2 separate regions of the Homo sapiens genome follow, and region 1 is linked to region 2. Evidence: fine-mapped expression QTL. Tissue or cell type: aorta. Region 2 holds a variant in brackets; the other region holds the start of a gene. All regions are shown on one strand. Distances are between the middles of the regions.

Evidence for each region. PIP is the estimated chance that this variant, and not a neighbour inherited with it, causes the effect.
Region 1: it holds the start of MECOM-AS1, and the variant in region 2 is the best candidate, but not a certain one, in a credible set for the expression of MECOM-AS1 in aorta (GTEx, PIP 0.68).

The regions. Positions count from the first base shown.
Region 1 is chr3:169,444,983-169,450,369 of GRCh38, reverse strand. MECOM-AS1 (MECOM antisense RNA 1) reads right to left here and starts at 2,503. Exons shown (of 5, transcript NR_134932.1): 1 at 2,435-2,503. All of the region lies in intron 1 of MECOM (MDS1 and EVI1 complex locus), which reads left to right.
Region 2 is chr3:169,475,158-169,480,544 of GRCh38, reverse strand. All of the region lies in intron 1 of MECOM (MDS1 and EVI1 complex locus), which reads left to right. It overlaps MECOM-AS1 (MECOM antisense RNA 1), which reads right to left. Exons shown (of 5, transcript NR_134932.1): 5 at 3,493-3,659. Among named protein-coding and RNA genes, the nearest start is that of MECOM-AS1, 30 kb to the right of the region's middle. The variant A/G (reference allele first, on the strand shown) is at 2,057.

The DNA of each region.
Region 1 (5,387 bases), 30 kb after region 2:
AATTAGCACCTTGGAGTCTTTGGCTTTAGACTGCTGATTTGTTAATTCTTGTGGTGATTTTCTTCCTGGTGCTGTGTGTTTAAAGTACTAAATCGTGAATTTCCCGTACAGTCTTCAAAGCTTTTCACTCAAGTGGCCAAATAGGTTTACGTTAGTGTCTTGAGCATGACACATATTTCAGAAATAATATTTGTTCTGGCATAGCCTAATAACTATAAAATTGAGATGCAAACCAGAAAAAATTTCTTTAAAGTCCGTAATGCCATTTTAGAGGGAAATATTCTTTATTCCCTAGACAGAGTAAGAAGCTGCTCTTGTCCAAATTATGAGTTGTGAAACCTTCAGACATAAAAGAAAGCAAAATTGTTGACATGTTATTGGGACATAACTTTTCTCCCCAGTGTTTCTTTGTTGTAGAGAGAATAAGGAAAAGTAAAACAGCAGCAATCTTTCTACAATATTCTTACAGAGGAAAAAGAATTAGAGGGAATATGCTACCCAAGTTTACACCTGCTTTGTAATTCTTTGGTCTCCAGTTTGACACCATTAAGGAAAGTGAGGATTTCAGCCAATTACAGCTGATGGTTTCATTGTATTTCTTTTTTTCCGATGGTATCACATCCTATATTTCTTTACGTATTGTCTCAGACATACATGCATGTAGTTGGATAATGGGATATTCAACATAGCTTACCGCCACCTCACCAAATTATTAAGCTATTTCAAAACAAGAAATAATGCTGAGGGAAAATTTGTATTAGCTTGATTGATTATCTTATTTTAATCCATATTAAAGCTTTAAGTCTCTAGGCGTGGCTCTTTACTTCTAACACCTCATAAATTATAGCTATAATGAAGCAGTCATTTATCCTGAGCTGATGATAAATGGCTTGCCCTAGGAGGAACTAAAGAATAGGCAAGTAGATCATTTTCATATTTGGTGAAAACAATATTAAGTACCCAGACCTCAGTGATTGCCCTAATAAATGAATAATCTGAGGTGAGGGGCTTGGCAGTCAGTGTAAAAAATAACCTGAGCTTTCTCTGTCATTTGTCAGGCTTTGCTATGACAGCATGCATTATGGGTAAATGAGCAATCAGCAAGAACTATGTTATGGCTGGGATGTTTTTGAGAAATTTATCATATGCATTGCTTAGTACCTTAAGACCTTAAGGCTTAATGGCTATAGTGCATGACTGCAAGTGAGCACAGTTCCTATTTACCATGGTATGCTTCATTTGTGCTCCATCTCTCACCTTAAAGAAAGAAAAGACCTTTCGTGATTGAGCTTCATTTGGCTTTGCTTTCAAAATGTTAAGGTCTTTATATGATGTTCTCTCTGTTGACAGATACTACTCCTGGTAGATTGGCTACAGGAGATTTTGGAGTCGTGATTTCAAATAAAATTTCAGGGTCAAAAATTTATCATGGTATGGAGGTGTCAAAATCTGGATTCCAGTGTACCTGAAGCCAAATGTATTATGGAAAGTGACATTACCTCCTTATAATAGTATTAAATATTTAATGGTACTTAAGAATTAAATGATTTTCCACCCTCCTCAAACCACCGAACAGTTGATCTCTTTCATTTATTACGGAATTGGAAATAATCAAGAGTAGTTGAGATGTGAATGCTTCATTGGAATTATGCAATGTGTTATGACAATGTCTGACTCATTATGGTTTGCTGCCATATGCAGTGAAAAAGGAAATCAGGATGCAAACTCCTCTTCCCAGGCCAGGGGTCTCACATGCACACTCCTGTGGATGCTATTCTAAAATATTTGATTAAAGATAATGTGGCTTTACCAGTACCTCTCTTGCCATAATATCCCAAATTTACAGGTGCCTTTGAAGTTAGATGTACACTGAATTAAAAATCTGGCTTTACCCCTAGTTGGATAAATTTGTTTATTAGTTACTCTGAACATCATTTTACTCCTGTGTAAAATGGTGAAAACACTGTCTTGAAGGATTGTTGTGTGGCACAAATGAGATAATGTATAGAAGATGCTTAGCATGTGATGGGCGACCTATAAATAAATACTAAGTTAGTTCTATATCTTCTTAAAATCCTGGTCAGGCACCTAAGCATTCCCACAACGTATAACACGAGTGGCATTTTACAAGATATGGTAGCAAGGCTAGTTGCTCAGTATATTAGATCAAGGAGCTCATGAGACAAATTCAATTACATGAAAATATTTTTTGAATGTCTACTATAGGTCAGGTTCCAGTGATGACCTAAAGATCACCTCACCATTGGTTGCCATCATCACTATAATAGCTTCTAATTTCTCCCCTCTCCTAGCTCTCATCCATAGCAGTTTCCAGTTGAATTTCCAAACTACAGATCTGATCACACCATGACTCCTAGTTGCCCAGCCATTTAGCACCACAAACAAGGGTTTAAATAATACACTTCTGACTTACCATTTCAGCTTCATTTCTTGCCTTCTCTTTTATGCCTATATTCCAGCTATGCAGAGTTACTCACCAATCTTTCATTTGTAGGTCACATTTGTGCTTTTTCTTTGCCTAGAATGTACTTCCTTCCACTCAACTGTCTTGGCATGGCCAAATCCTTGTTCGAGATGTATTTCAAATTTGAGCTCTGGTGTGTAGCCTTTCCAGTCTTTCCAGGTGGAGATGGTTTTTCTTCCTCTTAGTTGTTTCCTGAATACTTTGTGTGTAATAAACCACTCATCATGTTGTGCTGTAAACATCTGTTTGTGTGCTCTGCTTCCCACTATGGATTCCTTGAAGACAGTGACAGAGTTGACATTTTTACTTCTAGAAATTAACATGGTACCTGGAACACAGTAGACGCTTTATAAAGGTACTTTGTAAACATAAGAATCAATGAGAAAGGTATGATTCTGCCTTTCTTTGGACATCTCAAACTCAGAGTCAGAAAAGTTCTTGGTGGGGGGAGATAGTAGATAACCATCCACCTCTTCTTGTGATCTTAACCTACAAAGCCTCACATCCTGCATTATTCATCTGTTCCCTCCCCCAGTCAACTAAAATTTACAAAATGCCTGCTTTGCCTGGCCACCTTCTAGCTACTGAATGAGAAGGTGCATTTTTATAGGAGAAGATGGAGGTGGAGCAGGAGAACTCTAGGGCATGGGTGGCAGAGGGCACCAATAAGACTTAATTCTTCCACCCTTGGGAATTGTAGACATCTTCACAAGGGGTCAAGAAATTGGGTGGTTCAGAGCAATTTCTTTTACATCTCAAGGATGAGGACGACTTGAACTAATGTAGAATCTTCTAGATTGTAGATAAAATGAAGGAGTTGGATTTCAATATTTTACAATGAGGATCCCTTTTCATAACATAAAAAATTCTTAGACCTGTAAGTATTTATTTGTTGACAAAATTATACTGAAAAAAATAACTGAAAATTCAGTAACTGTTAATTAATTTTCCACTTAGTGAACCACAATGGCATGTGCAGGGAGTGCCTAAAGCTTGGTGCACCCCCTGAACAAGCCATCCTGATAGGGATGAGGGCAGTAGCACTGCATAGTCATTAGGAGCATGGGCTTTTGAATCAGGCAGACTTGGGTTCAAATCTTGGTTCTGACACCAGGTATATGATCATGAGAAGCTCTCTCAGTCTTTATTTCCTTAACTGAAAAAACAGTAATAGTGACCTCACAGTGGGTGCAGGTGTGGGATTTAAGATAATAAAGGTAGATAAAGATAACGCACAACACACATAACTACTACCCACTTAATTATCAGGAAAGGGAGGGTAGCTTAGCAAGTTCTATGATGTAAACTCAGGGCAAGGTGGCTCTGTGGAAGACCAGGCTTATTTGTGTAGCGTGGAGAGTGTCTGTATTAGTTCGGTTTTATGCTGCTGATAAAGACATATCTGAGACTAGGAAGAAAAAAAGGTTTAATTGGACTTACAGTTCCACATGGCTGGGGAAGCCTCAGAATCATGGCAGGGCAAGTGGCAAGAGAAAATGAGGAAGAAGCAAAAGCGGAAACTCCTGATAAACCCATCAGATCTCGTGAGACATAGTCACTATCATGAGAGTAGCAAGGGAAAGACTGGCCCCCATGATTCAATTACCTCCCCCTGGTTCCCTCCCACAACACGTGGGAATTCTAAGAGATACAATTCAAGTTGAGAGTTGGGTGGGGACACAGCCAAACCATATCATTCCACCCATGGCCCCTCCAAATCTCATGTCCTCACATTTCAAAACCAATCATGCCTTCTCAATGGTCCCCCAATGTCTTAACTAATTTCAGCATTAACTCAAAAGTCCACAGTCCAAAGTCTCATCTGAAACAAGGCAACTCCCTTCCACCTATGAGCCTGTAAAATCAAAAACAACCTAGTTGCTTCCTAGCTACAATGGGGGTACAGGTATTAGGTAAATACAGCCATTCCAAATGGGAGAAACTGGCCAAAACAAAGGGGTTACAGGGCCCATGCAAGTCCAAAATCCAGTGGGGTAGTCAAATTTAAAGCTCCAAAATGATCTCCTTTGAATCCAGGTCTCACATCCAGGTTACACTGATGCAAGAGGGGGTTCCCATGGTCTTGGGCAGCTCTGCCCCTGTGGCTTTGCAGGGTAGAGCCTCTCTCTTGACTGCTTTTATGGGCTGGCACTGATTGTCTGCAGCTTTTCCAGGTGCACAGGGCAAGCTGTCGGTGGATCTACCATTCTGGGGTCTGGAGGATGGTGGTCCCCTTCTCACAGCTCCACTAGAAAGTGTCCCGGTAGGGACTCTGTGTGGGGGCTGTGACCCCACATTTCCCTACTGCACTGCCCTGGCAGAGGTTCTCCATGAGGGCCCCGTCCCTGCAGCAAACTTTTGCCTGGGCATCCAGGCATTTCCATACGTCTTCTAAAATCTAGGCAGAGGTTCCCAAACCTCAATTCGTAACTTCTGTGTACTCACAGGCTCAATGCCACTTGGAAGCTGCCAAGATTTGGGGCTTCCACCCTCTGAAGCCACAGCCCAAGCTCTATGTTTGTTCCTTTCAGCCATGGCTGGAGTGGCTTGGACACAGGGCACCAAATTCCTAGACTACAAACAGCATGGGGACCCTGGGCCCACCCACAAAACCACTTTTTCCTCCTGAGCCTCCAGGCCTGTGATGGGAGGGGCTGCCATGAAGGTCTCTGACATGGCCTGGTTACATTTTCCCCATGGTCTTCCTACTTATGCAAATTTCTGCAGTTGGCTTCAGTTTCTCCTCAAAAAATGGGTTTTTCTTTTCTACTGCATCATCAGGCTGCAAATTTTCTGAACTTTTATGCTCTGTTTACCTTTTAAAATGGAATGCTTTTAACAGTACCCAAGTCACCTCTTGAATGCTTTTCTGCTTAGAAATTTCTTCTGCCAGATACCCTAA
Region 2 (5,387 bases):
GTATTATAAATGGTACGGGCAAAGTGACTAAAGAGATGAGAAAAAAAGTGGGAAAGAGAAGGAGAGGAATGGCAGCCACAGGGGAAGGGGTTGGGGGAGCAGTGGACTGAGAGCAGATGAGAAGGAGGAAGAGCAGTGTAGGGCCAGCGAGCCACCTGTATACACCTTGTAAATCCTTTTGTTCCTACTTCTGGGAAGTACTCCAGTAGTACTTGAAGAACTCAGATTGCAGTGTTGAAGGCAAGCTAGCAGGTAGAGCCCAATGCTTTGAGGTGGAGATTAGGATGGAAGGTATTCATGGGACAGTATATGTGATAAAGAAGCTCTTTCAATTAAATAAAAAGAAGACAGCACTAGCTTGCTTGAAAAAACACAATTATATTTGAATTCTTCACATGTCAATATGTTAGTCTTTGGCAACCTACAGAAAACCATCATCATACTTTTTTTATACCAATAGTGATGACTCCACTTTGACCAAAAGGCGAATCAATGTAGAAAAAAGTCCATTGTCTTCACTGTGGAAAGTACATCGAATCTGGAGTCAGATGGATTAGCATTCAGGCCTCTTGGTAGTTTTCTGATATTGGACAATTTACTTACTCTGTATTTGTTTCAGTTAAAAAATGGGGAATTTGTCTTAACATTTTTGTGAGTATTAAAATAAGAGATTTTAAAGGTGCCTGGCACAGTGCCTGGGACAGAGTATGTGCTCAATTATATTAGTCACGTTCCTGCCTTGTCAAGAGCTTTTCAGGTCCCTATAAGGAAAAGGCCATAAAATTTAGAAGACATTAGGCATGAGTTTTAGTGGTTATATCACCAAATGTGTCTGCTTTCTAAATTTGTGCCTGAGAATCAGGCAAATTTTTTTTTTTTTTTTTTTTTTTTTAGGTAAGAGAAAATCTGAAAATGAGACGTTTCATTCACCTCCATATCTTTACTGCTCAGACACATTGGCTGATATCTGCTTGGCTTTACTTCCAGTGCTTTCTCTAATTGCAGAGGCATGTGAAGGCCGTAATCTTTAGAAGAGCCTTCAAAGCCTTGCATGGTCTGGCCCTGCCTGTCTTTCCAGCCTCACCCTTGTGACCGTCTCCTCCACTGTCTATGCTCCAGCCACACTGGGCTTCATTCTTTCCTCCACCAACCCAAACTTTCTCCTTTCTTAGGGTCTTTGTTACCTCTGCTTGAGATACTGTTCCTAGACGCCTCCCTTTCCTTCTTGTTGCTGCTCATCTCTGTCTCTTGCACACACACACACACACACACACTCACATCCCTATCTATGTGAATTCCTACTTGCTTTATATCTCACCTTAAGTGTCACTTCCTGCCTGAGACCCTAGCGTATGTTAGATTTGCTGGTCAAAAGCTTTTCCAGCATTCCTCCTGCTACTTATCACATTTATGACTAATTAGTTATCTTGGTAGATGTTGGCTAATGTCTGTCTTTCTGGCTACAGTATTAGTAAAGACAGGGATTATGTTTGTCTGAATCACTACTGTGGCCCTCCCATTCAGTTCTATGCCTGGTACATAATAGGTGATCAACAAATATTTTGGTGAATAAATAATGCTAGATGCAGAAACAAATTAGTGACTACATCATTGTAGCATTACAAGATTGTGGAGTCCTACTGTGTTCCACATCAATAACTGCTGGCTCTGTATGGTTAATCTGTGCTCTCTGAATTGTAAAATGACCCAGTATGGTTAAAAATGGGCCTAAAATGACGTAAATGGTTTTTATCACAGAGGAACACCCCCAGATATTTGTTCACAAAGGAAGCTGGTTTAGCCTAGGAATTGGCATCCCTTCTCCTGTATAGTTTTTTTAAGCCATAATACTCAAGTCTATCAAATATCCTAGCACAATACACACAACCTTAGGGAAGTGGCAGGCACCAGTCGCTATTCCCGTGGGTGGTTAAGCCTTTGGTATCTGGGAACAACTGAAGGGTAGTAATTGGTGATACTTATTGTCTGAACATAACTCAATCTTGGCTTAGCTTGGGAAGTATTCGTACCCTCACTTGTGGGGGTGCTTGGCCAA[A/G]GGCAGAGGTGTCCCTATAGGTCACTCTGAGGCATTTTTATCTGCACAATAGCTATTAACAAGTAATGGGAAAAGTGGAGATAGGCTGGTTACTCTAGGTGGCTGTAAAACAAGTGTAGATAGGACACAAAGGAGCAGCAGAGTGAGTACACATGACAAAAACCATACCGCATATTGAATTCTGCCTTGACAATATCATTCTTCTACAGTTGTCAATATTAATACTTTTCTATAAGGAAATGGAATGACATTAATGATACATGCAACATCCTTTATGTAAAAATGCCCCAAATCCAAGAGCCTTCCAGAGCACCAGGAAAAGTTTCAGAGCCATTGGATGTCTCTCTTTGTCAGATGCCACGGTGTCAGGCTCCGAGCCATTTGTCATCCCTGAATTTCATTATCTGCTCCTTCCCTGTCTTTCATTCTCAGTTTGCTAGGACATTTGTTCACCGTTGACCTCCCTGACAAATAATACACCTTAATTATGTTGGCAAGAGGGGATATGTCATTCCTGGGCCACTTTAATTGTCTATCCGACAGGCATCCTGCTGTGGCATGTAGCTTCTGTGGTATTTTGACTGCAGTGGTAGGACTATCCTGTGCTTGCGCTTTGTCTAGAGATAGTCTCAACTTTTACAGGTTCTGAAGATAATATGTCTTATTGAAGCCGTGTATCACTTTTGTTTTGCAGTTGCTAAAACAAGCTCTCACATTAATTTGGTGGAAACAGTACAGATTGGCTATCTACAAGGTTTGCCTTGGAAAGCAAAAAAAAAGTCTGCATAAGGATTTAGAATGAAGTAAATACTGAAATAACTACAAAGGTTAAGAAGAAAGGTGTTTGGGCATATCAGGAAGCTCCACAAAGGAAAAACAGCTGACTGCAGCTCCAGGAGCAGGACGCAGAGCCTCTAGTTTAAGTCAGCTAATCCTTTGCAAGAAACAGAGAAGTGCTCTTGGCCAAAGATTAATCTTACAATTCCATTCTCACATAAAAATCCTGCAGCCTATAACAATCTTGACTTCGGGACTCAGAAAAAAATTCTCTTTTATACCTTGCAAGGATTTGGATCATTGATGGTCTTCATTTTGGCACTTGTTTGTGTTTACTCCAAGATTTTTGTGCAATTCTTTGCCCATGGGAGAATGACGGGGCGCAAAGATAAAAGCTGATGAGGGTCTCAGCAGCACTTCGAAGTTGTGGGAGCCAGTTACCATTTGGAGTTCTCCTTTGACAGGGGTAGATGCCTTAATTTGAAATGCCATTTAACTAGGAATCTACCTAGACCTTTGCAGTGTGAAGACTTCCTATTGCAAATGAAATTGTGTGTGTGTGTATATATATATATATATATATATATATATATATATATATATATACACACACACACACACACACACACATCTTACTTATCCAGACCTCTAGGCACATATTATGTCGCATGTAGGAGTTTATTAACATGAGTATTTCTAAAAAGAAAGCTATTTTATCCATAGCAGCAGGTAAAATTTTAGTTTGTTGGCACAGTCCGTTGTCTCATCTCTCTTTTCTTCTGCCTAACCTGTCTTTGCCGGTTTTCTCATCAGTGGAACATGTTGCCTGTGAGGTTAGGGGAGAAAAAGAAAAAAAAAAAGAACAGCATCAACAAAAAATAGCATCTTCTTCCACTCAACCTGCAAGGCTTCACAAGGGTAATCTCAAAGGTCACCTGGCTCCTGTTTTGGCCAAGAATATGTGGATTAGGGTCACAGGAGGGCGAGATTTTAATTTCACAAAAATATGTAAAGGGAAGGGGGAGAAGGGGGAGAAAAAAAAGATTACTTGCAGAGAGCATGAGTACCAAGGGAGGCATGCTTAGGTGACTAACGACACCTCTATCAGAAGAACAAACTCGATCTGCATCAAGCATTGAGACAGATGAGGCCAATTTCACACAGTAAATTTCTTGGCCATGATTGATGTGCCCCTGCCGCTGAATGTGAGCAAGCTCTCTCCGCACCTGTCAAGCACCGGGCAGACAGGGATCTATCAAAGCGTTATTGATGACTTTACACTGTACTCTGCAAATAAAATGTAATGGGCTAACTGGAACATAGATCTGAGTGATGTTACTTATATATTAAATATGTCACATCTGTAGAACAAATGGTGGTTAGATAAGAGTTATCATCTTCAGGGCTCAATAAATATTTTATCAAGCATAATGGAAATTGTCAAATCAATCTAATTGTGTAATACATTATGAAGACATCAAAATTAAACAAAGCACATATGCTATCATTTCATTTTATTAGTGGGCCACTGTTGTGCCCAGGAGGTCTTGTGGTGGTTGAAGGCTGGCAGAGTTAATACTATATATATGTTTCCCTTTCCTCTCCCTCTGCTGCTTATGGAACTGGCTAGATATTTCATCAAAGTATTAATTTCTCAAATGCAGACAACTTCAAGGCATAATTAGATTAGGGAGAACAAAGCTGCGAAAAGTGGCATCAAGCCACAAATTCACTTTAGCCATATTTAGAGCAAATATCTCTGTGCTTCCATTTCATTTTATTTATCTTTATCTGATTTTATACTGTTGCAATAAAAAAAAACCCAACATGAGCAAGAATTATCTTTGAGCCAGAGACATCCATGCTAGCTCCTAACTAGCAGCAACTGATGTTTCAAAATACCTTTGTCGTTTTTGTTATTGGTGGTTAAAAACCACTTGAGGTTTCCCTCCTCCTCCCCCTTTTTTTTTAATTGGCAAGCTAGGTACTTTACAAAGACTATGGAAAGGATTACAAAATCTGGCAAGACTGGCTTTGGCTTGGTGAATTTTAAATATGCATTTAAGGAATGATTGCGTCTTTCTTTTCTACCCGATTTAAGACAGCTATTAGATTCGGAAAAAAAAAAAACTTCGACTTTTTAGTCACTATTTTTAATGTGCTAAGGAAACATTACCATTTCATCCATGTGTCCATTAAAAGAAAGGGCAGCCCGTATTCCTGGCCTTAGAAATTCTCAGTTTGGCTTGTCACTGTGATCAAATTCAGTCCCAGGGTGCATAAGAGGAAGGTCATGAAACATCCTGTGCCCAGTTTTTCCAGAAGCAAAATGGGAATAACTTAAAAAAACACTTCAACCGTCTTGATAAAGTTGGGCCAGGGGACAAAGTTTGCTGCTTGTCAGGGTTAGAACTAAAATGGTTATATTAGGATAATCATGAAAGATACTTATTTCAATATTAAATGACTTTCAGAATGAAGTGCAACCATTGGCAACAAATAAGAGCACAAATTGTCTTTTTTCCCCTATAGAATTATATGCTATGTTATCATT